Regions from separate parts of the Homo sapiens genome. Here all the other regions are linked to region 2. A link means that fine-mapping ties the variant in region 2 to the expression of a gene that starts in the linked region. Tissue or cell type: aorta. Region 2 holds a variant in brackets; each other region holds the start of a gene. All regions are shown on one strand. Distances are between the middles of the regions.

Region 1 (7,728 bases), 130 kb after region 2:
GGTCCAGTAATCTGTGTTTTAATTAATTCTTTAGGTAATTCTGAAGCTAAAGTTTGAGACCCACTGTTCTAGTCTACATCCACTAATCCATTCTCTACACTTTTAATATAGCCATCTTGCAAAACAAAAAACAAAAAAACAAAAACAAAAACAAATCTGGTTGTATTCCTGCTTTGCTTAAAAGCCTTTAGTGACATTTTTGACTAGAGTGAAATCTAAATTTCTTAGTACAGCAGAAAGAAAAATCCACTAGGATCTAGATCCTGCCTACCAGTTTTCAGAAAGTCAAGCACTTTAAATCATTTTTGTAAGAATGCATTGTCATGTAGTGATTAAGGGATGAGCTGTGGACTCATACCACCTGGCTTTGAATCTTCACTTACCACTTTACAACTGGCTGTGTGGCCTTGGATTAGTCACTTAATCTCATTGTGCTTCAGTTCCATTGTGTGTACAATGTGAATAATAACATCCATATCATAAGCTTGCTGTGCAGTTATCACAATACTTGGCACTTTGTCTGGGCTCAGTAATTGTTAGCTATTATTATTTTGATTATGTCAAAAAGAAAAAAAACATTACTGGAATTAACCTGTAGTATAGCAAGAACTGGAGAGGATTAGAATTAATGCCCAAACTAAGGGAAGTGGTCCCCATAAAGGAAGGCCCACTTCTCTGGGCAGTTTCAGTTAGTTAGCTAAGAATAAAAATACCCAGTCTCAACAGAGAGGTTCAGAGGTCTTTGGGGTTTGACTAGGGTAGTGAATCTGGTAATTAGATTCTAGGATATTATAGGACAGATAACTGTCAAGCTTCTAAAGTGAGAGCCAGGAAAGCTGTGAAGGAAGTCAGAAAACTGATACAGAGCAAAGAAGCAAAGACGGTGAAAAATTTCATGTATGTTTCTCTAATAACAGTTAATAGAGCAGCCAAGTGATCAAATGTGAGAATCCTACAATGACTGAAACTTGGTCGACATTTTCAGACACGCTGTTGGTCTGAAACAACGTTTTACATAAGAGCAAAAGCATTGAGTAATGGCGAGAATCAAAGTCTAACCTCCACCACAAATTAGTTATGGTCTTGGACAAATTACTTCTCTCCTGCCTCAATGTCATGATCTGAAATAGGGGGCCACATTATGAAGAGAACTATATACATTCATAGCTTAGTACAGTGCCTAGCATGTGGGAAGTGCTCAATACACGGCAGCCATTACTTTTATTGGGAGTATATTATCTTATACGAATCATATATAAAAATAGGCACCCCTGGAGGTTCCTGCTTGATCAAAGCAATTATATATTATCATCGAATATTTTGACTAAAATTGGGTTCCAACTTATAAGGTGAGGAAATACTGTAAAGACAAATCCAAACACAGTCATGTATCCCACATTCACAATATTTAGGGATTAGCAATTTTCACTTCAAATATGTACAAGATTAATTCTATCCAAATGCTCACTTAGTGTCTATTAGGTGCTAGCAAGACTACTAGCCTCAGGGGGGAACTACCAAGAAGAGTAAGGCATGATTCTTGTCCTCAAGGAGAATACAGGTTTGAGAAGATAATGGGACAATCTTAATAAAACATAACTCAATGCTGTATAGGGTCAAAAAACCAAACCAAACCAAACCAAACCAAACCAAACCAAACCAAACCCGCACAAAAAACTGCATAAAGTCTTTACCAAGTTGACTCATTTTTCAAAATCATAGTTCTCATTTTTTCCTCTATCCTCCTCTGAATTAGTCTCAATCCATTTTTACTTACTCCATCTTTAGTTACGGCAGGGAGTCAAGATCTAGAAAAACTAGTCACTGCCACCCACGATAACAGAAGGTAGCAGCCACTTGTCTTCTCTGCTATATTCCTAGTGCGTAGCAGAAAAGTAGAGAATCTTGTCCCCTTTGGTCCACAGAGGATGGCTTATTCTTCTGCTTCAGCTCTTAGTTCAGATGTCACCTACTCAGAGAGCCTTTCTCTCAGCACTCAACCTAAAGTGTTTTCCCTCTCCCTCCCCATTATTCTCTAGCACGTGATTCCTTCAAAGCCCTACCTTTGTGATGAATGCTGTGATGTGCCACCCTGACCCCCCTAAGGAATGAAAGGCTTATTTCCCCAGCTCCTGGAAGAGCTGAGACAGACCTCGGCTGCCAGCCTCCGTCCATGATTGACTTGGCTGAAGAGAGTTGAAGTTAGGCCCTTTCCAGGGAAACAGACATCTAACGACAGATCAATCAAGGGGTATAAAAGCCTGGCCCTTCTCTTCAACTTTGAAGGGCCAACCCAGCACTAGAGTTCCTGTGGGACTGGTGGAGAACATCCTTGAGACTTCACTGCAGCTTAACTTTTTCTATTGCCCAATCCTGCTTCCTTTCTTCCTTGGTAATCATCCAAAAAGTCTTCTCTAGTAAATGTCCTGCCTCTAAATCTCCTCAGAGTCTGATTCTCAGGAAACCCAACCTAGGACAATCTAGAAACATCTTGCTCAATATCAATGTGCAATCACCCCTCAGTATTTGGGGGATTGCATCCAGGACCCATGATGGATACCCAAATCCAGATGCTCAGGTCCCTGATTTAAAAATTGTGTAGTAGGCCAGACGCCGTGGGTCATGCCTGTAATCCCAGCACTTTGGGATGCCGAGGCGGGTGGATCACCTGAGGTCAGGAGTTCAAGACCAGCCTGGCCAACATGGCGAAACACCATCTCTACTAAAAAATACAAAAATTAGCCAGGTGCAGTGGCGGGTGCCTGTAATCCCAAACTTCTCCGGAGGCTAAGGCAGGGAGAATTGCTTGAACCCGGGAGGCGGAGGTTGCACAGTGAGCAGAGATCCAGCTTCAGCCTGCGCGACAGAGCGAGACTCTTTGTCAAAAAAAAAAAAAAAAAAAAAAAAAATCGTGTAGTTTTGTACACAACTTGCCACCTCCTTCCATGTACCTTAAATAATCTCTAGGCTACTTATAATACCTAATACAACGTTAAATGCTATGTAAGTAGTTGTTACACTGCAGTGTTTAGGGAATGACAAGAAAAAAGGTCTGCACGTGTTCAGTACAGATGTAACCATCTTTTTTCCCCCAGAATGTTTTTATTTATTTATTTTCTTAAATAGAGTCTCTGTCGCCCAACCTGGAGTGCAGTGGCGTGATCTCCGCTCACCGCAACCTCCGCCTCCAGGGCTCAAGCGATTCTCCTGCCTCAACCTCCCAAGTAGCTGGGATTACAGGCGTGCGCCACTGCGCCCGGCTCATTTTTTTGTACTTTTAGCAGAGACCGGGTTTCGCCACGTTGGCCTGGCTGGCCCCAAACTCCTGACTCAAGTGATCCGCCCGCCTCGGGCTCCTAAAGTGCGGGGTTACAGGGGTGAGCCACCAAACCCCGCCGCCCCAAAATATTTTCTATCCGCAGTTGGTTGAATTCACACATGCGGAACTCATGGATAGGGAGCGTATTGTTTCTCCCCCATCACTAGAACATGGAGTCAGGACCGTGCAAGTCCCTCTTGGTCACTGCCGTATCTACTAACTCGGCAGTGCTGTAGACACGTGTATATCTGTTTATGGATAAACTGAAGATGTTAATGAATGAATGAAACCGTCATATTGAGTCTCTGAAACGGCAACAGGATTTGGGTATGGTCTTATCGGGGAGGAAGACGAGCATGACCTTAGAGGGTCATCCCTACAAGGTCCACAGCCCTGCAAGCCCCGCGGCTGCTTTCACGTAGCTGGCAGGGCCACGCTGCACAACGTCTCTAACGCCGTCGGAGGGCGGCCCCCACCTCCCGACAGCCTGGGGTACACCGTGCACCCTCCAGACAGTCAGGGGCACACGGGGCCCCTCCCAGCGAGGGAGGGGACGGGGAGTCACAGGTTCGGCGTAGAAGGCGGCAGCGCAGGTGGGAGCGTGGTGAGGCGCCACTCCTCCAGCTCTCCCCACCGGCGGGAAGACCTCCTCGCCGCCCGCATCCGTGCCGACCGCAACATTTACCATCGGCAGCTATTTCAGAGGTCGGTCTTTCGCCTCCTACAGAGAGCCAGCCTCCTCCTTGTCCCCGCCCTCAAATATCCTTCAGTGAGGACACCGGTGACCTTTGGGGGTGGAGAGGGAGGCGCCTACAAGCCCCTTCCCCTCTCTTCGGCCGGACACAAAGCGGGCTTTTCCACCTAGAGTCCCAGCGCTCTCACCTGCGCACCAGCCGTCGCGCCGCCCCAGGCCGCCACCGCCAGAGGCCCCAGAAACAGATCTCAAGCAGCCGCTGCTGCCGCGGATCCCGACAACCTTCGCGTCGCGCGAGGGCACGGAGCACGCGCAGCTCTGCGGTCGACGCCGGGCCGCCCCCACTCCGCTTCTCCGGGTTTTCCGTGAAGCTCCAGCCAACAGCGGCCGTCACCGGAAAAAACGGGGAGCGAAGTTTATTCAGCGTATATTCCAGCAAATTGTTGAAACTGAAATTTTAAAAGAACGCATAAAATTTAAATAACATATCAAAATGGCACAGCTTCTGCCTTTTGGTGAGCGCTTGACAATGATTTATTGAATGAAAGAAAGAAATAGTCCACTGCGCTCTGCTCTCTGTCCTGACATGACCAATTACAAAGCGCTTGGATTTGTCGCTCAGCGCCAGTATCCCGCCTCTCTGTGCGGTTGTCTGGAAAATCAGGATTTTTACTCTCCCGTAACTCCCGGGATCGGGTTTGGAAAACGGACATGCGCCGTGAGAGCTAGTTGCCTTCTACTAAAGCATCCGCCCTCAGTCCTTCCTGAGGGCTTACAGGGAAGTGCGGAGTTTCGCAGCTCGTACTCTTCACAGATTAGATAATTCACCCGGCATTTCCCCATCCTGCTTCTGGGTTCCAGGACAAAACTTTTATTCTCTTTTAACATTAAAAAACATATAGGAAGTTATGTTCAAACATGGCTATTTTTATTAAAATTTATCCGGCACTGTGAAAGCTACCTTTCCTTTCTCACAATCTTTCGCACCGAATATATGTTCCATTCTTGAGCTAGTCATTTTCCAATGTTAAGAAAACACACCACAGAAAAGCGTTTTTTTTTCTCTCGGTCAGTTCAACTGCCTAGCACCGTGAGTTACCATGATACGTTATTTGCTAATGAGAGTCATTGGGGTCCCAGCCTTTAAAAATAGCCTGCGTCCGGCGCCATTTTTGTTTTGGGCCCACTTTGAAAGCCGCGATATTCTGAACAGAGGCCATTTTTCTTTTGGGCAGATTCCACGGGCCATCGAAGTGTTTCGCTGCCATCTTAAATCCTGGCTGTGGCCTCAATCCTGCAGCGAAGCTGCCCAGATCATTTTGTGTTTGGGCGGCGGCTGAGTTCCCAAACGCGCGCGGAGACCCTGGGAAGGAGGAAGTAAGCGCGAAAGTGCTTCCCTTAAGCTTCTGAAGGTTGGCTGCAGTTCCGGCTACCTGTGTAGTCCGAGTTTCCACAGCCAGGTACTACTCCGCCAGTGACCCTGGACAGTAACAAAACATATAAAGCCCGAGCCCAAACCCCGCCACCATCATAGGTAAGCACATGGACCTCTGACAACCTCAGATGTTCCTTCAAGTGAACTGAACTGTTTGCCCATCTCCTCCCTCCTGGTTTTTGGCTTTGATTTTTTGAGACTTTTCCGAATCCTTCTCCCTGTACTTCCACCTTTCTTCATTGTTTTCAAAAAGCCAAAAAGTTGCTAAACATCAGGATGCCATGAGCATGGGCATTACGGTGGAGATATTATTCAGGAAAGTTAACTGTCTTTGCACAAAGGGAATGCAGTAGATGGGCCAGGTATTTGTATCAAATCATGGCTACCTGCATCCAGCAGTACAAATACCTCCCCCTTCCCAGACATTTTTGGAGATGTGAGGTAAATACAGATTGCGTTTGTATATACTTCCCATTCATTCATTTATTCATTGCATTTCTTGAGTACCTAATTTGTGCTAGGCCATAAGGATTCAGGAGTTAGCTAAAAAAAATCCATTAACTCATGGAGCCTACATTTTATCACCTTGACATCTACTAGGTTGAGACAAATAACAGTATTTTATGGTTCTTAGCACTGCTAGACTGTATAAACAAGTATTTGCTTTCTCCTTCCCCTGAACTATTTTTTTTTATTTTTAGTTTTTAATTTTTTTGGCCGGGTGTAGGAATTAATGGTATTGACACTTACTTCTTGGATCCTAGACATAACGATATTTGTAAGCCAGTTGGCTAGCGTTAAAACTAATATTCCAGTTACTTAGGGCCTTGTTGCTCCAAGTTCATTTCACCTACCACCAGCATCAGCATCCCTGGGAGCTTGTTAGAATTACACTTCATGACTCTCACCCCAGAGCTGCTGAATCAGAATCTTCCTCAAGAAGTGTACCTTAAAGTTCAAGGAACATTGATTCAGGGCATGGGCTAAAGATACAGCCCTTTCTTTCTTTCTTTTTTTTTTTAGATGGAGTCTCGCTCTGTTGCCCAGGTTGGAGTGCAGTGGCGCGATCTTGGCTCACTGCCATCTCCGCCCCCCGGGTTCAAGCAATTCTCCTGCCTCAGCGTTCCCAGTAGCTGGGATTACAGGCGCGCGCCACCACCCCCGGCTAATTTTTGTATTTTTAGTAGAGACAGGGTTCGCCATGTTGGCCGGGTTGTTCTCGAACTCCTGACCTCAGGTGATCCACCCGCCTTGGCCTCCAAAGTCCTGGGATCACAGGCCTGAGACATCACGCCCGGCCTGGCCCATTCTTTGTTCAACCCGTGCTTCTTAACTAGATTCACAGTGTATTATCAATTTATTGCATGTTCTAAATGCAATGGATATTTGACAGGTTTTTTTCTGTGCTTTTAGTTCATTGACTTGATGTTAGGGCGTCAATTTAGCTTTCCAAAAAGTTGAAAAGAGATTTTGTCATCCCAATATACTTATATGTAATTTCTGTTATAACATCTGAAATGTAGGGTTTTCTCTGTAAGTCTTAGCATCCAATTTACCACTGGTTTGCGTTTTTTTTTTAAAAGTTGTTTACTGTGCTTCTTGCTTTCTCATATCTTGTATGCATATTTGTACTTTTAATTTGTTAAAAGTTGAACTCAAAAGTTTGCATGTGGACAGCAGTTCAATACTGACTTGGAAAACCTTGGGCCTTGGTTTACCAAAGCTTTTTGTGGCACCTTGCTTTCTTCTGTCTTCCCATTTTATTTTACTTCTTTTATTTTTATTTTTTGAGACAGGGTATAACCCTGTTGCCCAGGCTGAAGTGCAGTGGTGGGATCATAGCTCACTGTAACCTCCAACTCTTGGGCTCAAGCGATCCTTCTGCCTTGGTCTGTCAAAGTGCAGGAAAGCAGGCATGAGCGACTGCACCCAGCTGCCTTCTGTCTTTCTTTAATGAGAAGACTAAATCAAGAGTTCTCAGCCTTGGCTGCACGTAACAATCACCTGGGAGCTTTAAAAACAGACTCCAGCCCTGTATCTGCAGAGATTGAGACCCTCTGGATGAAATTAAAGAGCCAGTAAGGAGTATGAGAAAACAGAAACAACTTTTACGTTTTATGTTGCTATGTTAGATTTTCTCTCCCTTATGGTGTTACTTAAAATAATCGGGATTTTGAAAACCATGAAAAGATCTGGATTAAGAATGTAAGGAACCAGCTTCCCAGTAACTGGTCAACTTGCCAATTATTTGCTCTGTGTCCTAAGAAAGTTGTCCAGCCT
Region 2 (7,728 bases):
ACCATAGTCCTGGGGGACAGGAGAAGGAATGATTATCAGAACCCAGCAATAGTTACGACTGTGGGCAAGGAACTATCAGTAGAGAAATACAGCCACTACCAAAGCTAACAGGGAGTGAAAGAGGGAAATAAATGCTGTAGCCCCTCACTCCTCTTGCCCTGCAGTTTCATTGGCCATTAGCCAAAGCCTACTGAAAGCCAGAGGGTAAGAGGAGCTGGGTGATATAGTCATGAGGTCAGCTCCTGAGAGCACAGAGCAAAGAAGGTCCAAGAACGGATTTGGAGTGAAAATAGAGAATAATGAGCTTCTTATTAATGATTTATTTTGAAACCTAGAATCAAAAGCCAATTTAAATATCTATTTTTAAAAGTTCAAATTATGACTCAGGGGCATTTCCTTTAAAAAAAAAAAAAACTCAAGTTACACACATCAGCCAATTCAGAACTCAGCTCTCCCTTTGCTCCCAGGGAAAGTAGCCCAAGGGTTCTCAAGCCTGGCTGTACATTAGAATCACCAGGGGAGACTTTTTTTTCTTTTACTACCAGTGTTTGGGCCCAATCCACACCAATTGAACCAGAATCTCTTGAAGTGAGACACAAGCACCTGTGGCCCATTAAAGCTCCTCAGGTGATTCTGATATGCACTCAGGGCCAAGCACCATTGAACTAGAAGTATCTCTTAGCTATTGATGATCATTTAAATAAACTTCTTCCCTACAGGAAAAAGCCAGAAAGTTCTCCTTTAGTTTTTTAATTTTCTCTGCCCTGGGCTGCTTTTGAAACCATAATGAGCCAGTCTGCATTGGGAGTTACCATGGGGGAAGGATTTTAACCCTTCTGAATATTTTTTAGCTCAATACCATATATACTAGGGAAATTCTGAAATAAGTACCTCCTTAACTTTCAAGTTGGACTGTGAAAAAATGTAATGTGTTTTGTGAGCCAGCTCCTTCCTCCCATTCCCATTCCACTCAACCTGAAACAATACTCTTTTGTCACAGTTTCACAGTTTTTGACTCTGAAATCACCTATGCACCATGCCACTAAAAAACCCATGTTATTAACATATGAGTAAATAAAAATCATCTTGAACAAGTAGCTCTCCTTGGAGTTCCTGGGAGCAAGCAGGGTTAAGGGGCAAACTGTAATTATCATTACTCTTCCCATTGGTGTCAATCCCAAGTGTGAAAAGAGATGAGCACAGAGACTCTGACTTAGCACAATAAGCTTTTTATTGTATTCTTAATTTGAGTCTTAGAAATTTTGAGACTTAATTTGAGTCTTAGAAATATTAAGAATATTCTTAGAAAGAAGAATATCGTTTCTAATTCCATCTTCGTGCTCTGACCTAAAGTCCTTTCAAAGAAAATGTTTTCATCCTTAAACAATAAAAATTGAAATAAACATATGAAGGGGAAACAACATAATGGAAGGAGTGAGAAAGTAGATAAATTAATCTATTTAATATACCTTCTTTAAGAATAGAAATTCAAGGGTTCAAAAAGCAATTTTAAACATTTTTTTTAAATGTATGAAAGCTAAAATGTGTTTTTGTACTGGATGGAGATTAAAGATAGATAAAGTTGATGCCCAGAGGACGACAGATTTCCACTATGCTTTGGGTCCTTGGTATTCAATATGTTTTCCACCCTCTGTCTTCTAAAACTTGCTCTTTGGATCCCAGGGTAACAAATGATGCCCGAGAAAATGAAATGGATGAAAACCTAGAGCAGGTGAGCGGCATCATCGGGAACCTCCGTCACATGGCCCTGGATATGGGCAATGAGATCGATACACAGAATCGCCAGATCGACAGGATCATGGAGAAGGTGAGCACGTGGCAGTCAGCAAGTCCCTACTGCGAGTCACTTCTGAAATGACCAACAGGAAGTGTGAAGGGCATAACAAGATCCTCAAAACACGACCTTGGATTCAGGCGCACTGATAGCTGGAAATGTTCTTCATTTTCCAAGAGAAAAATATAGGACTCAGCAACAGAATTGGAGTGAAAATAAGAGGGTCAAATTTAATCCAGCAAATATTCTCAAAGGCTCCTGTCAGCCAGGCATTGTGCTAGGCACTGTGGGCCATGTACACATGAGAAAGACACCACCCCTACTGCCAAGAAATTCACGGCCTATGGGAGGCTACGAGCCTCCAGATGAATTTTCTATCACTCAAAATATAATTCACTAAGAGATCCACAGATAAAATGCTAAACAAGGTTAGATAAGGAAAGATCTCAAGAGGCAAAGTTCGGGAAAATCTCAGAATAAGTTGACTTTGAATTGAATCTTGAAGGATGGTTAGTATTAATAGTTTGTCAAGTGGAGGTGGTGAAGGGATAGAATCAGAAAATGGGAGAAAGAATAGTCAGTATAGCCAGGACATGATTATGAGCTTTGCTTTTATAAATGCCAAAGCTTTAATGAGAATTCAAAAATATCCAGGTTCCATTTCCAGTTTAACAGTTCACATCCCCAGTTCTAAAAACAGGGAATTTTATATGATGAAATTGAGTTTACACAAGGACACCAGACTTGGCTCTAAGATCCACCATGTCAACGTGGGCCATAAGAAAGACTGGAGGGAGTAGACTGGGAAGGGGTGGGTTTGGGGGCTTAAAATTAGAAGAGATTGGAAAGAAACACTGGAACGTTCCTATAAAGAGACCTAGGGCACCAAAACCTGATATTCTACAACACAGAACTCCGACATAATTTATATTTCCATGTTTCATGCCCTTTCCTCAATCAGTAGGGTCTTGAATATTGATTACAAACTCTTATGTCCAAATGCTAAAAAGGAGAAAAAGAGACATTATAGATTTAACGATAATTGTACATCTATAATCTACTCAATGTGGGTAACTTATGTTGTGTGTTTATTCCCTGGGAGACGTTGAAGTTCTTTGTCTGATATCCTAAATTTTCTTATAATAATTCATTCCATTTTGGTGAGCAGAGAAGGATACTTTTAAGATTTTTAGAATCATAAATCTAAATAGTAGTTTCTTGGTATGCAAGCAACCTCCAATGACTTGAAAAAGGAGTAAGTAGGCATAAAGGGAACACTTTGTCCTGTTGTGTTGTACATACTCCATGTTAAAAATATCTGATTGCATATTTTGCCTGATCA[G/A]TATGAAAACTACGCAAACTTTAGTGTTGGTTGGCAAAATACTTGTGCTTTGCTTACTTTTGCAAGTAATGGCATGCTTATCGTTGTTAAGAAGGCTTTCATATGATAAAGCTTTTAAAGCTGTGTAAATCAATAGATATTAGAATAATAATGAGAGTTTCAAAACTCACTAGAGCCAACACAAGCTGACCTAACCCATTACGGCCCAGAATAATGAACTAAAAAATCATTGCTGAGCTGCCCTCCAACAGAAAAAACAATTTGAAAAAAACAGGAAGTATTCATTTTCTATTAATGGACCCACTTTACTTGCAGATGCAGCTAGATAATGCATCAAAGCCAATTAGGGTTCCAGAAGGAGCGTCTTTACTAATAGAAGGGTCAAACTCTTATTGACAGAGTTGAACTTTAAGCAAGAAAATGTGTTCCTGGAAAGGCAAGTGGCATCTTGATTCTGCCACTTTGAATTTCTAGTTCTCATCTTTAGGGAGAAGGTTTTTCTTCTACGCCCAGTGTACTATAAAGACAGAGACATATGCAGCTACAAGGTTTAATCAGAAGCCAGGCAGGTGGATGGATAATGACTATTTCAATTTGTATCATTCCTTGAGTGCAGAATCATTTAAGTGGGAGAAGGGTCTAATTGCCTTTGAATAACTAGTTTCCAGTCAGCACTTTAAATAGCCCCTTTTTTTTCCAGAATCAAAATCCACACATGATTTAAATAGAGCCCACTTCAACCCAGCATTGCCCCAAATGATCATGTCGCATGAACTGCACAATTATTAATAGATTTCCACCTTCTCATTGAAGTTCTCATTTCTGATAACGGGACAGTATGTGGAAGTTTCCTGCATATCTAAGATGTAATTGCAATCACACTGTAGGGGTAAGGAGAGTCTTATGATGTTTCTCTCATAATCTCTCATGACCCCAACAGCAACCTTTACCCAGCTCTATCAATCATGATCTTTTCTCATCACTTGGATCAATAGTGAAGTTTTGGGAGTCCTTAACAATGAGATTTTCAATACATCCTCATGGATTGTCAAGAAATTACTTTATTTAAAAATCTCGTTTTCTGCTTAAGGGTATTTATGTATATAAATAATAACCTTATATATATAAATAAATAACTATATATATTATATAATATATAATATATATATTATATGTATATGGTTATTATATATATATAAAAACCATATATAAAAATAACCATATATAGATATACCTTCTAAGGTTAAAAACATAATTTTTTCAGAAAACTTACTGAATTGGAAGCAAGCCTATATCAGAGGGTTTATGGGAACTGTTGCTAAGGAAATACCTTAGCAATGTTCAAACTTTGATTTAAAGTTATCAGTGGTAAGTTAGGCATGCAGTCCCAGCTACTCCAGAGGCTGAGGCAGGAGAATTCCTTGAGCCCAGGAGTTCCAGGCTGCAGTGAGCTATGATCGTGCCACTGCACTCGCACTCCAGCCTGGGCAACAGAGCAAGATCCCATCTCTAATAAGTAAATATATAAATAAAAATAAAGTTGTCAGTGGTAGATGACAGGCACACGTTGGAATACAGTGAGGCTGATTCTTTAGCAGTCCTCACATTCTTCTATCAGTGAGAAAACACAGCATTTGAGAGCTAAGACTTTGAGTTCTAACAGGGTTTTGCCATTCACCAGCTCTGTGACCTGATTGCCTCACCTGAAGGATAGTAAGAGAACTGTTCAAACCTAGGATCAGAACAGGCTGGAAGTATGAACTGGGTTCTAAAAGTCACCTGGCATGGTCTGAAGTTGAAGAGATTCCCGGAGCGTTCAGAAGATGGGCTGAACAGCTCCTTCTAAACTTTTACTGGCTCTTTGGTGGTCATCCTGGCCTTCTCACAAGGACAAACATGTAACATATGTTGGGCACTCCAGCAAATTTAGAATTTTCTAAATAGAAATATAAAAATTGGAATGGGACAGCCATCATAAATAAAGTCCTACAGCATATAAGTAGGGTGATCATAGGGGCATTCTCCAAATACCAGGAAGACATCTACAAGGAGATTCCAGACTTTTTTTTTTTTTTAAAAGAAGCTAATTCTTTTATATAATAAAGGGGCAGTACTTTCTGTGTCAAATATTGCATGGGGTGGAATTTTCATATGCTTCAGAAGTAAGTTAGGTGGAAATCACAGATGCTCATTGAACATAAGTCTGTTTCAGCTCCTCCCAGATCCTTTAAGGATATACAGAGTAACCTCATGCTCTACTTCAAATATCCCCAGGTGAAGGCCCCTCAGTGCATTCTTGTACAGGAGATCCTAGAATGTTTGCGCTCAGGAATGCCATCATTTTAAAATGAATTATTTTTCTCATTTGAGCTTTTCAGAGCATTTAGTCTGGCAACATAATAATTCAATCTACAGGAACATTTCACATTGCTCTGATCCTGTAACTTTCCTTTGCACTGAAGTGTCATTATTTCTGATACCATTTGTAGCTGGAAAGGGAGGGCTTAAGAACCAAGTAAAATTGGTGAGATTATCCATTTTCCAATTGAGAAACCTGAGGTCAAAAATGTGAGTCTGTAGTTCAAAACAATCAAAATCAATGCCCTATCTTACTATGTAAATACTGATTTTAAAAGACAAGTGTCAATTATCCAAACAGATGACAGAGAACCATTGCCAGGTATTCAAAGTTATGATTAATCTGGAAATATGTTTGTTTTAACTTTGCAAATTTCTATTTGAACATGGATAATTCTAATGTCCTGAGAATTCACGATATGAACTGAATACAGAAGACTCAGCTCAATAAAAATTGGGAAGTACAGCACCACAATAGGTACAAAGCTGGTAATCATTGAGTGATACTGGTTGAGAGAAAAACAGTTTGGTTTCCCCACACTGCCTGGCAGCCTCCTCCTCTTCTTCCCAGGCTGTAGAAGGATAGACAGCATTACCAGTCAGGGAAGGACAAAAGAAAAGCCTCCATAGAATCGTTGTCTTCACCTCTGGTTGCTGATGCATTTTTCTCAGTGGTGATGGGAATCATTCATTTTCTGGAATTTAAAGATTTATGCTGGTAGCAGCCCTAGGTTTCATGCTGCATATACAGCAAACATAACCCAAGCAGTAAAGAGATCAACCAAGAGATTAAAGCCAGCCAGTTACAAAATCATAGTAAATGTGCATCTGTTAAAGAAAAGACAGTTATTAAACTCATAGAAATGAATCTTCAGAAATGCAACTTAAAAACTATTAAGCATCCCAGAAGCAAGCCAAGTTCTCATACGGTAACAATAATTGCAAGATAAACTAATGAGCCCTTCGTTTTGCAAAACATTATTCCAAGCACATTATGTGTATAAACTCATTTGATCTCAGCAAATTGAATAGTAAGTGATGAATAGTGTGGACTCTGACTCCAGGTTGCTAGCATTCAGACTCTGGTTTCTCCATTTATTAGTACTAAGACTTCAGACAAATTCCCCAGATCGTTTCTGACTGCTTTTCTCATTTGGAAAAGTGAGCTAATAATAGTACACACTTTATAGTTGATATTGTTAATCTTGATGTTGTCAAAGTTTAATGAGTGGAACAAAGTACAGTTGACCCTTGAACAACATGGAGATTTAGGGTGTCAACCCCCATGCAGCTGAAAATTTTTTGACTCCCCCAAAATTTAACTACTAGTAGCCTACTGTTGACTGGAAGCCTTAATGACATAAAAAGTCCATTAACATCTATGTTTTATGTATTATTTACTGTATTCGTATGATAAAGTAAGCTGGAGAAAAGAAAATGTTATTAAGAAAATCATAAGGAAGATAAAATACATTTATAATACTATGCTGTATTTATTGATACCATCAGTTTATATCATTTGTTTACAAGATGAATCATCAGTCTGAAATCTTCAGTACACATTAAGCAATTCAACTTTTTCTTGAAATGTCGTGACTTTTTTTTGCTTTTTGGGAGCACTGCTAGCATCACTGGTGGCACTTTGTATGGGTGCATGATGTTATTCAAGGTTTACAGTATTGCACTAAACATGATTTTTTTTAAATGTGAAACTGCAAGAGATCACTTTTTACTGCACTATGCAATTTACTGGAGAGATGGTGAGGATGATTAGTATCACAGAGCATTTTAAACGGATGCTCACAACACTTGAGTTCACCACAATAATAGGAGGTGGCTATGAAATTATTAGAGTAGTACAGTATGGACTACAGTTAATTTTATACAATTATGATTTAATACTTCACCTTTACATTTCTCTCAACTGCAAATAGGCCCATGTATGGTCTATATTTGTTTAAGTCTCATCAATTTTAACTTTTCATAGTAGATTTATATGTATTTTATGATAGTAAATAATAGACTAGACTAGTATCTACATATATTTTATCCATTCATGACATGCCTAATTTTTTCTAAATTTTCTCAATATTTCTAAGTAACACATTCATCTGCAAGTTTGTCTTAATTGTTGCAAATCTCCAAAGCATTTTCCAGTGTATTTATTGAAAAAAAATCCTGGCCAGGTACAATGGCACATGCCTGTAATCTCAGCATTTTGGGAGGCTGAGGA
Region 3 (7,728 bases), 270 kb before region 2:
TCTCCAAACATGGGGAAGATTATCATTGGAAAGATCTATTGATGACCTATAATACATAGTTGGAACTGTTTATCCACAGAAGTATTCCCCAAGAATCAACCACAGAGCCAAGATGGAGCTTATGTCATTGTTATGCATACTTCTTTTACGGCTTGTGAGGGCAGTTCATACTATTCTGATTTTACAACTGAGACCCAAGGAACCTGAGTGACTTCTAGGCTCCATTATGTCAAAAAAAACTCAAATGTGAGGCTTTGCCTACACTGAGAAACAGTAGTTCAAGAAACGGTGCCCTGGTTCTGTTAAAATAATCTGAGAGTTATGTGGTAAGTAGTTGAGAGTGAATAGGGTAGCTTTGAGAGGTGACAGCGTGCTGGCAGTCCTCACAGCCCTCGCTGGCTCCAGGCGCCTCCTCTGCCTGGGCTCCCACTTTGGCGGCACTTGAGGAGCCCTTCAGCCCACCACTGCACTGTGGGAGCCCCTTTCTGGGCTGGCCAAGGCCGGAGCCGGCTCCCTCAGCTTGCAGGGAGGTGTGGAGGGAGAGGCGCGAGCGGCAACCGGGGCTGCGCACGGCGTTTGCGGGCCAGCTGGAGTTCTGGGTGGGCGTGGGCTTGGCGGGCCCCGCACTCGGAGCAGCCGGCCAGCCCTTCCAGCCCCAGGCAATGAGAGGCTTAGCACCCGGGCCAGCAGCTGCGGAGGGTGTACTCCGTCCCCCAGCAGTGCCAGCTCACAGGCGCTGCGCTCAATTTCTCACCGGGCCTTAGCTGCCTTCGCGCGGGGGGTGCTCGGGACCTGCAGCCCGCCATGCCTGAGCTCCCACCCCCTCCATGGGCTCCCGTGCGCCCGAGCCTCCCCGATGAGCACCACCCCCTGCTCCACGGCGCCCAGTCCCATCGACCACCCAAGAGCTGAGGAGTGCGGGCGCACGGCGCGGGACTGGCAGGCAGCTCCACCTGCAGCTCTCGTGCGGGATTCACTGGGGGAAGCCAGCTGGGCTCCTGAGTCTGGTGGGGACGTGGAGAACCTTTATGTCTAGCTCAGGGATTGTAAATACACCAATCGGCACTCCGTATCTAGCTCAAGGTTTGTAAACACACCAATCAGCACCCTGTGTCTAGCTTAGTGTTTGTGAACGCACCAAGCCACACTCTGTATCTAGCTACTCTGGTGGGGCTTTGGAGAACCTTTGTGTCCACACTCTGTAGCCAGCTAATCTGGTGGGGACATGGAGAACCTTTGGGTGTAGCTCAGGGATTGTAAACGCACCAATCAGCGCCCTGTCAAAACAGAGGACTCGGCTCTACCAATCAGCAGGATGTGGGTGGGGCCAGATAAGAGCATAAAAGCAGGCTGCCTGAGCCAGCAGTGGCAACCCGCTTGGGTTCCCTTCCACACTGTGGAAGGTTTGTTCTTTCACTGTTTGCAATAAATCTTGCTGCTGCTCACTCTTGGGGTCCACACTGCTTTTATGAGCTGTAACACTCACTGCGAAGGTCTGCAGCTTCACTCCTGAAGCCAGCGAGACCACGAGCCCACCAGGAGGAACCAACAACTCCAGAAGCGCCGCCTTAAGAGCTGTAACACTCACCGTGAAGGTCTGCAGCTTCACTCCTGAGCCAGCGAGACCACGAACCCACCAGAAGGAAGAAACTCCGAACACATCCGAACATCAGAAGGAACAAACTCCAGATGCGCCACATTAAGAGCTGTAACACTCACCGCGAGGGTCCCTGGCTTCATTCTTGAAGTCAGTGAGACCAAGAACCCACCAATTTTGGACACAGTTTGACAATAAATTTACACTCAAATATCTCTAAGGAATCAAACTTACAGATTAATAATTAGTAATCAGGTCACGTAAAGTAAATTATAAAAGAGCATTGATACCAAGATTGGCAGAAAGTTTTTTGTGTGACAAAACCAAGTTTTGGCTAAGATACACACTGCTGATGGGAGTCTAAATTGCTGTATATGTCGGGAAAACAAGTTGTCTTTATCTTGATGTTATAAATAACCTATGACCCAGAAATTTAACTCCTAGACATATACTCTAGTGAAACTCTTGAACGTGTGCGTCCAAAGACATTTATAAACATGATCTTAGTAGTATTGCTTTTAGTAGCAAATTCTGGAAACATCCCAAATGTCTATCAATAGTGGAATTGATTTGAAAGGGGTGTGGAATGGTAATATAATGGAATAGCCTACAGCTGTTTAGATAAAGGAACTCCAATTAAACATACCAACAAAGATACATTTCAAAAACAAGACGTTGAAAGGAAAAAAGTCATCAAAACAATACACAACATTCTACCACATTTTTATAAATTCTCAAAATATGCAATATTAAACATGCATTATTTAGGGAGGCATTCAATGTAGCAATGCATTTTTAAGAGGCTGGGATGATAAATGTAAAATTCAGAACAGGTATTATCTCTGGGAACAGGAAGAGGAGGATGCAGTGTTGGGAAGAAATACATATAAGTACAGCAGTAGAGGCAGACTTTTTTTTCCTTTTCCTTTTTCCTTTATTTTTCCTAGCTTTCTTTTTCTTTAGCTATGGTATTTCTTTAGCTATGGTATGGTATGGTATGTACTTTCCATATATCATACAGTATATTTTGGTGTGCATGAAATAGTCCTTAATAACATTTTTATTATTTTTTATTTGACGTTTAAGTTCAGGGGTACATGTGCAGATTTGTTATATAGGTAAACTTGTGTCATGTGGTTTTGTTGCACAAATTATTTTCTCACCCAGGTATTAAGATTAGTACCCATTAGTTATTTCTCTTGATCCTCTCCCTCCTCCCACTCTCCACCTTCTACCCTCCAATAGGCCCCAGTGTGTGCTGTTCCCCTCTATGTGTCCATGTGTTCTCATCACTTAGCTCTCACTCATAAGTGAGAACATGCAGTATTGGGTTTTCTGTTTCTGCGTTAGCTTGCCAAGGATAATTGCCTCCAGCTCCATATTCCTGCAAAAGACATAATTTTGTTCCTTTATATGGTTGCATAGTATTCCATGGTGTATATGTACCGCATTATCTTTAGCCAGTCTATCATTGATGAGCACTTAGGTTGATTCCATGTCTTCGCTCTTAACATTTTTAAACAGTCTCTGAGTAGAATAGGGTAGGCTGGTGTAAGGAATTACTGTTTTTAATTGGAAGCAATTACATACTGCATTAAAAAGCATATATATATAGACACACATATATATGTTTTACATTCACATAATCAAACCAAAGCTTTCAGAATTTTCCGCCAAAAAGCATGTGTGGAGGGAGAGAGAGGGGTGTTATGGTGCATTTGTAGGCCCTGAAATAAAGTGATCTCCATATTTGCTTCCATTTGTGTATAAATATTTTTTAAGCATATATGCATCCTAGAGTATGGAAAGAAAATTTCTGGGAAGATTTGCAAGAATCTGTGGCAGTTGAGAGTAGGTTCACTTTCGCTTTATTGTGTAATTTATTGTATTTTTCATTTAATTGTACTTTGTAAACTAAATATTTATTGTATATTTTACTTCATTTTTTAATTGCCATATGCAGCTTTAATTTTATAACTAAATTACGTTCTGACCCAGGGCAGGAGGTGGGAGAAGAGAATGAGAGAAGGGCGGAATCCTCAAGACAGCAGCATTCTGCGCTCCGCCCTGGAACACCCAGCGCAGCTACCCCATCCCGCCCAGGCCGGCCACCTGGCGTCGAAGCCAGGCGCGAGGGGCGGAGGCGGAGGCGGGGGCGGGGGCGGAGGCGGAGGCGGAGGCGGAGGCGGAGGCGGAGGCGGAGGCGGAGGCGGAGGCGAGCACCGCCCCACCGCGCACGCTGCGGTTGCCCCGGCAGCCGCGCCCTGCGTGGCGGAAGCTCACAATCAGCCCGGTCCCTCCGGCTTCCACCCCGCCCCCTGCGCTCACCTGCCCGCGCGCTCGCCTTCCGGGGACCCGGGGCCCATGGACACATACACCCAGCCCTGCTGTCCCGCGCGCCAGCTCACCAGCCCTACCCAAGGGACATCATTCACGCCTGGGCGCCTCCGCCGGGCTCCGGGAGCCCAAGGTCGCGGCTGGGCCAGCGCTGAGCGTCAGAGGACGAGAGCAGGGGCCTCCCCGGTCGCCCCAGCAGGCCCAGGCACATAGGTGCCCAGAGATCCCTGGCTTCTGATCGCCCGGAAGACTAAGAGGTGAGCATGACACATGGCTTTTCCTTTGACGTTACATCTCTACCCCCTCCACTCCTCTCTTCTCCAGATTTTTCTGGAGACTAAAAAGTGGAAAGCACAGTAGAGAACCCCCAACATGTAAACTATCGCTTACACTTGTGGGTGAGCTGAAACCCGCAAAAGTTTGGTGTATTCATAAGGAGCCTATATTGAAGGACTTTGCTAAATGTTTTACAAGGATCATATCTCATTTCCTTTTCACACAGTCCCATGAAGTGGGCACCATTGCTATTGCCAGTTCACAGATGCAGAAACTGAGGTAAAAACTAGGTAGGTAGCATATCCATATTTATATCCAACTAGTTTGTGTAAATAATGATACAGGGAAGGGAGGATCACAACGGATTTCCCCACCTCAAACCCTACATTCCACTGTACCAAGCTTGTCTTCCTCCATTCCTCTTTCTAATGATCCTTCCTTGTCGCACAGCCCCCCTTTGAGAGTTAAATGACCTGAACACACACAGATTCCCACAGATTTTCATGTAATTTCCGAGTATTCAGACCCCGAACATGGACCTCAAGTCAAGACATTCTGCTCTATTCCACTACCTTGGTAGATGGTTAGATGTGACTAAGGTGGCCCAGGGTCATGCTGGGGAAAAGTACAGGTGTGCTTGTATGTGGAGGATCCTATATGCTGCTCAATTTACAAGGAACCCAGGACCCAAGGGCTACACTTGTGTGATTTCCTGCAGTGGGGTGAGCTCTTGGTCAGTCTTAGCAGTTGATTGTGAAGGACACTATACAGGGTGCTGCCCTCTCCCCAGCACTTCAGGGCTTTAGCTGGGAGGGAGGCAGTCCACAGGAAACCGACCCATGGACCTACTGAATTCATCACTGTAGCTGCTAATTAATTCTCCGTTAGAGATGGGTGCTAACAGAGGCAACATTGAAGTCCCTGATTGGGAAATCCTTATTTTCACAAATCAAGTGGCATTGATTCAGTCTAATCATTACCTATGTAGGAGCATCTTGCCCTATTCCATAGATGACACATATACATATGCAGTATGATGACACCGCACCTAATCGGAATATGGCCGATAATAATAAAACAAGCCATAAATAGCAGCTAAGGTGAGTGTCACCAAGCCGTGCAGCAAAGTCCAAGTGGATGACTCTGAGGCAGCCTCAGTTGGTTCCCTAGTCCACCGCATGTTATAAACAGATTAAAAGGCAAAGGAGGCCTGGCCCGGTGGCTCACGCCTGTAGTCCCAACACTTTGGGAGGCTGAGGCGGGTGGATCACCTGAGGTCAAGAGTTCAAGATCAGCCTGGCCAACATGGTGAAACCCTGTCTTTACTAAAAATACAAAAATTAGCCAGGTGTGGTGGTGGGCACCTGTAATCCCAGCTACTCGGGAGGCTGAGGCAGGAGAATCGCTTGAACCCAGGAGGTGGAGGTTGCAGTGAGCCGAGATTGTGCCACTACACTCCAGCCTGGGTGACAGAGTGAGAGTTGGGCTGAGGGTCGAGGGTCATGGGATAGGGCGAGACACCAGGGGAGTGTGTGAGGACAGAAAAGAGTCTTGAGGACCTAGCCCTGGGCACCCAACATAGGCTTCTTGAAATGGGGAGTCAGCAAAGGAGCCTGAGCAGGAGGGGGCATTGGTGTTGGATGGAAGCAGGCGATGGAGATGTTGTGGTGCCTAGAGAGACACATTTAAAGGAGAGAGAGCTCACTGCCGTAGAGAATGTAGGTGAGGGAGCAGGCTTGCGATGGAGAAAAATGGTGCATAGTTTCAACTTTTGTAGTAAGATGGAATCTTTTCATTGCAAATGTTGGAAACTTAGCTAACTAGCTTATACCAAAATAAGGTGACGGGGGAGAAGATGTATTTACCCACAAAGTGGTAGATGGCTTCTGGCACCATGGAATCCATGTTGCAACTAATGCCATCAATCTCAGTCTCTCTCCATCCTCCAAGCATGGACTCTCTCTGTGGCACCCAAGAGAGCTACCTGCGCCCCAGCCCCACACCATACTGCTTAACAACTTCAGCAGAATAGTCTTCCCTCATAGTTCTGGATGATGGGCTGCTGATTGGTTGATGTCTTTTATGCACATATGCTTGAGCTTCAGTGTACCTGGAAAGGGATGGTTCCCTCAAATGGGCCAAGCCTAGGCCACAGACGCTTTCCTCTGGCAGGGGACAGAAGGGACAGCCCCATCCAAACGACCCGGATAGGATTCCCTATGTGATAATGGAGTTCTTTTCTCATAAGAAATGAAGAAACAACTGGTCATACCTAGCATGGCCTGCTACTCAATCCAAAAGATTTTCCGTACAAGGAGGTAAAATTACATACTAGAATGCCCATCACAATTTAACAGGGAGATTGTTTATGAAGATTTGCAGTTTCCTTGCAGCCATTTAACTACATCTTTTCCACTTAAGATGACATAGGAATCACTCATCACATCTCTGATATGTTACAGAGCCCAGTAGATTTGTTTATAATGAACACCTCAAAATTATATGTTTTTATAACACCTTAAAACTATTAAAACCTGCATGATCTCTCTATTTTGCTGGTGTGAAACCATGTAGATAGATGGTGGGAACTCAAACCCTTACCATGGCAATTTAGTTAACCTCAGCTTCTTCATGGTAAAATGGTAAAGTGTGATGAGGAGGGAAGGTTAAATGGATAATAAGAAAACCACCTGGCAAACTATTTTTAATTATGATGGAAGATTTGTTTGAACTGTTTTAACTTTATGCCCACTCAATATTTTTGATATTTATGTATAAATCCTACTTTCTGAACATTTCTTAAAAAACAATCTCTGTTCTTAAGGAAGTTCCAAAATATTGTTATTTAATCAAAATGAAGATGATAAAATTAACTTTGAGTTATTTTTCTTTTTTGTTGCTTCAGCTTTAGTTTTGGTCCAGAAAGCATTTTCAAGGAGCTGGTCAAGCATGGCTTTAGCAGATAAGAGACTTGAGAACTTACAGATCTACAAAGTTCTTCAATGTGTGCGGAACAAAGACAAGAAGCAGATAGAGAAGCTGACCAAGCTTGGATACCCTGAACTAATCAATTATACAGAACCCATTAATGGACTTAGTGCTTTGCACTTAGCCTCAGTTTCCAATGATATTGATATGGTCAGCTTTCTCCTTGACCTTGGTGCTCACCCTGATGTGCAAGACCGAATGGGCTGTACTCCCACAATGAGGGCTGCAGAACTGGGCCATGAATTGTCAATGGAAATATTAGCAAAGGCAAAGGCTGATATGACTATAGTTGATAATGAAGGAAAAGGTAAAAATCCCGACATCCTCTCCAGCAGATTGCAATTCATTTTGTAGCCAGAAAGCAATAACATGGACTCTTTTTGTTTTCCAACTTTAGAAGTGAATTACTTATGGTTTTAAGGGAAAGGCTAAATTCTCACTCCTATACCTAAACCTACTGTCTCCTCATACTTTGAAAATGAGATAGCTATATCTTAGGGAAATCATTTATGAGAGCTTGCTCATATACT

The links. PIP is the estimated chance that this variant, and not a neighbour inherited with it, causes the effect.
Region 1: MKKS starts here. The variant in region 2 is fine-mapped to the expression of MKKS in aorta (GTEx, PIP 0.99).
Region 3: it holds the start of ANKEF1, and the variant in region 2 is fine-mapped to the expression of ANKEF1 in aorta (GTEx, PIP above 0.99).

What each region holds. Positions count from the first base shown.
Region 1 is chr20:10,429,907-10,437,634 of GRCh38, forward strand. MKKS (MKKS centrosomal shuttling protein) reads right to left here and starts at 4,316. Exons shown (of 6, transcript NM_170784.3): 1 at 4,202-4,316. SLX4IP (SLX4 interacting protein) reads left to right here and starts at 5,399. Exons shown (of 8, transcript NM_001009608.3): 1 at 5,399-5,547. LOC128706665 reads right to left here and starts at 4,316. Exons shown (of 3, transcript NM_001394148.2): 1 at 4,202-4,316. LOC128706666 reads right to left here and starts at 4,316. Exons shown (of 3, transcript NM_001394149.2): 1 at 4,202-4,316. RefSeq lists enhancers at 1,711-2,212, 4,163-4,222, 5,113-5,342, 5,503-5,552.
Region 2 is chr20:10,297,585-10,305,312 of GRCh38, forward strand. SNAP25 (synaptosome associated protein 25) reads left to right here. Exons shown (of 8, transcript NM_130811.4): 7 at 1,684-1,828. Among named protein-coding and RNA genes, the nearest start is that of SNAP25-AS1, 82 kb to the left of the region's middle. RefSeq lists an enhancer at 2,912-3,829. The variant G/A (reference allele first, on the strand shown) is at 3,138.
Region 3 is chr20:10,031,143-10,038,870 of GRCh38, forward strand. ANKEF1 (ankyrin repeat and EF-hand domain containing 1) reads left to right here and starts at 3,845. Exons shown (of 11, transcript NM_022096.6): 1 at 3,845-4,191; 2 at 4,437-4,500; 3 at 7,116-7,505. The coding sequence starts at 7,160. All of the region lies in intron 3 of SNAP25-AS1 (SNAP25 antisense RNA 1), which reads right to left. RefSeq lists a silencer at 3,636-4,185.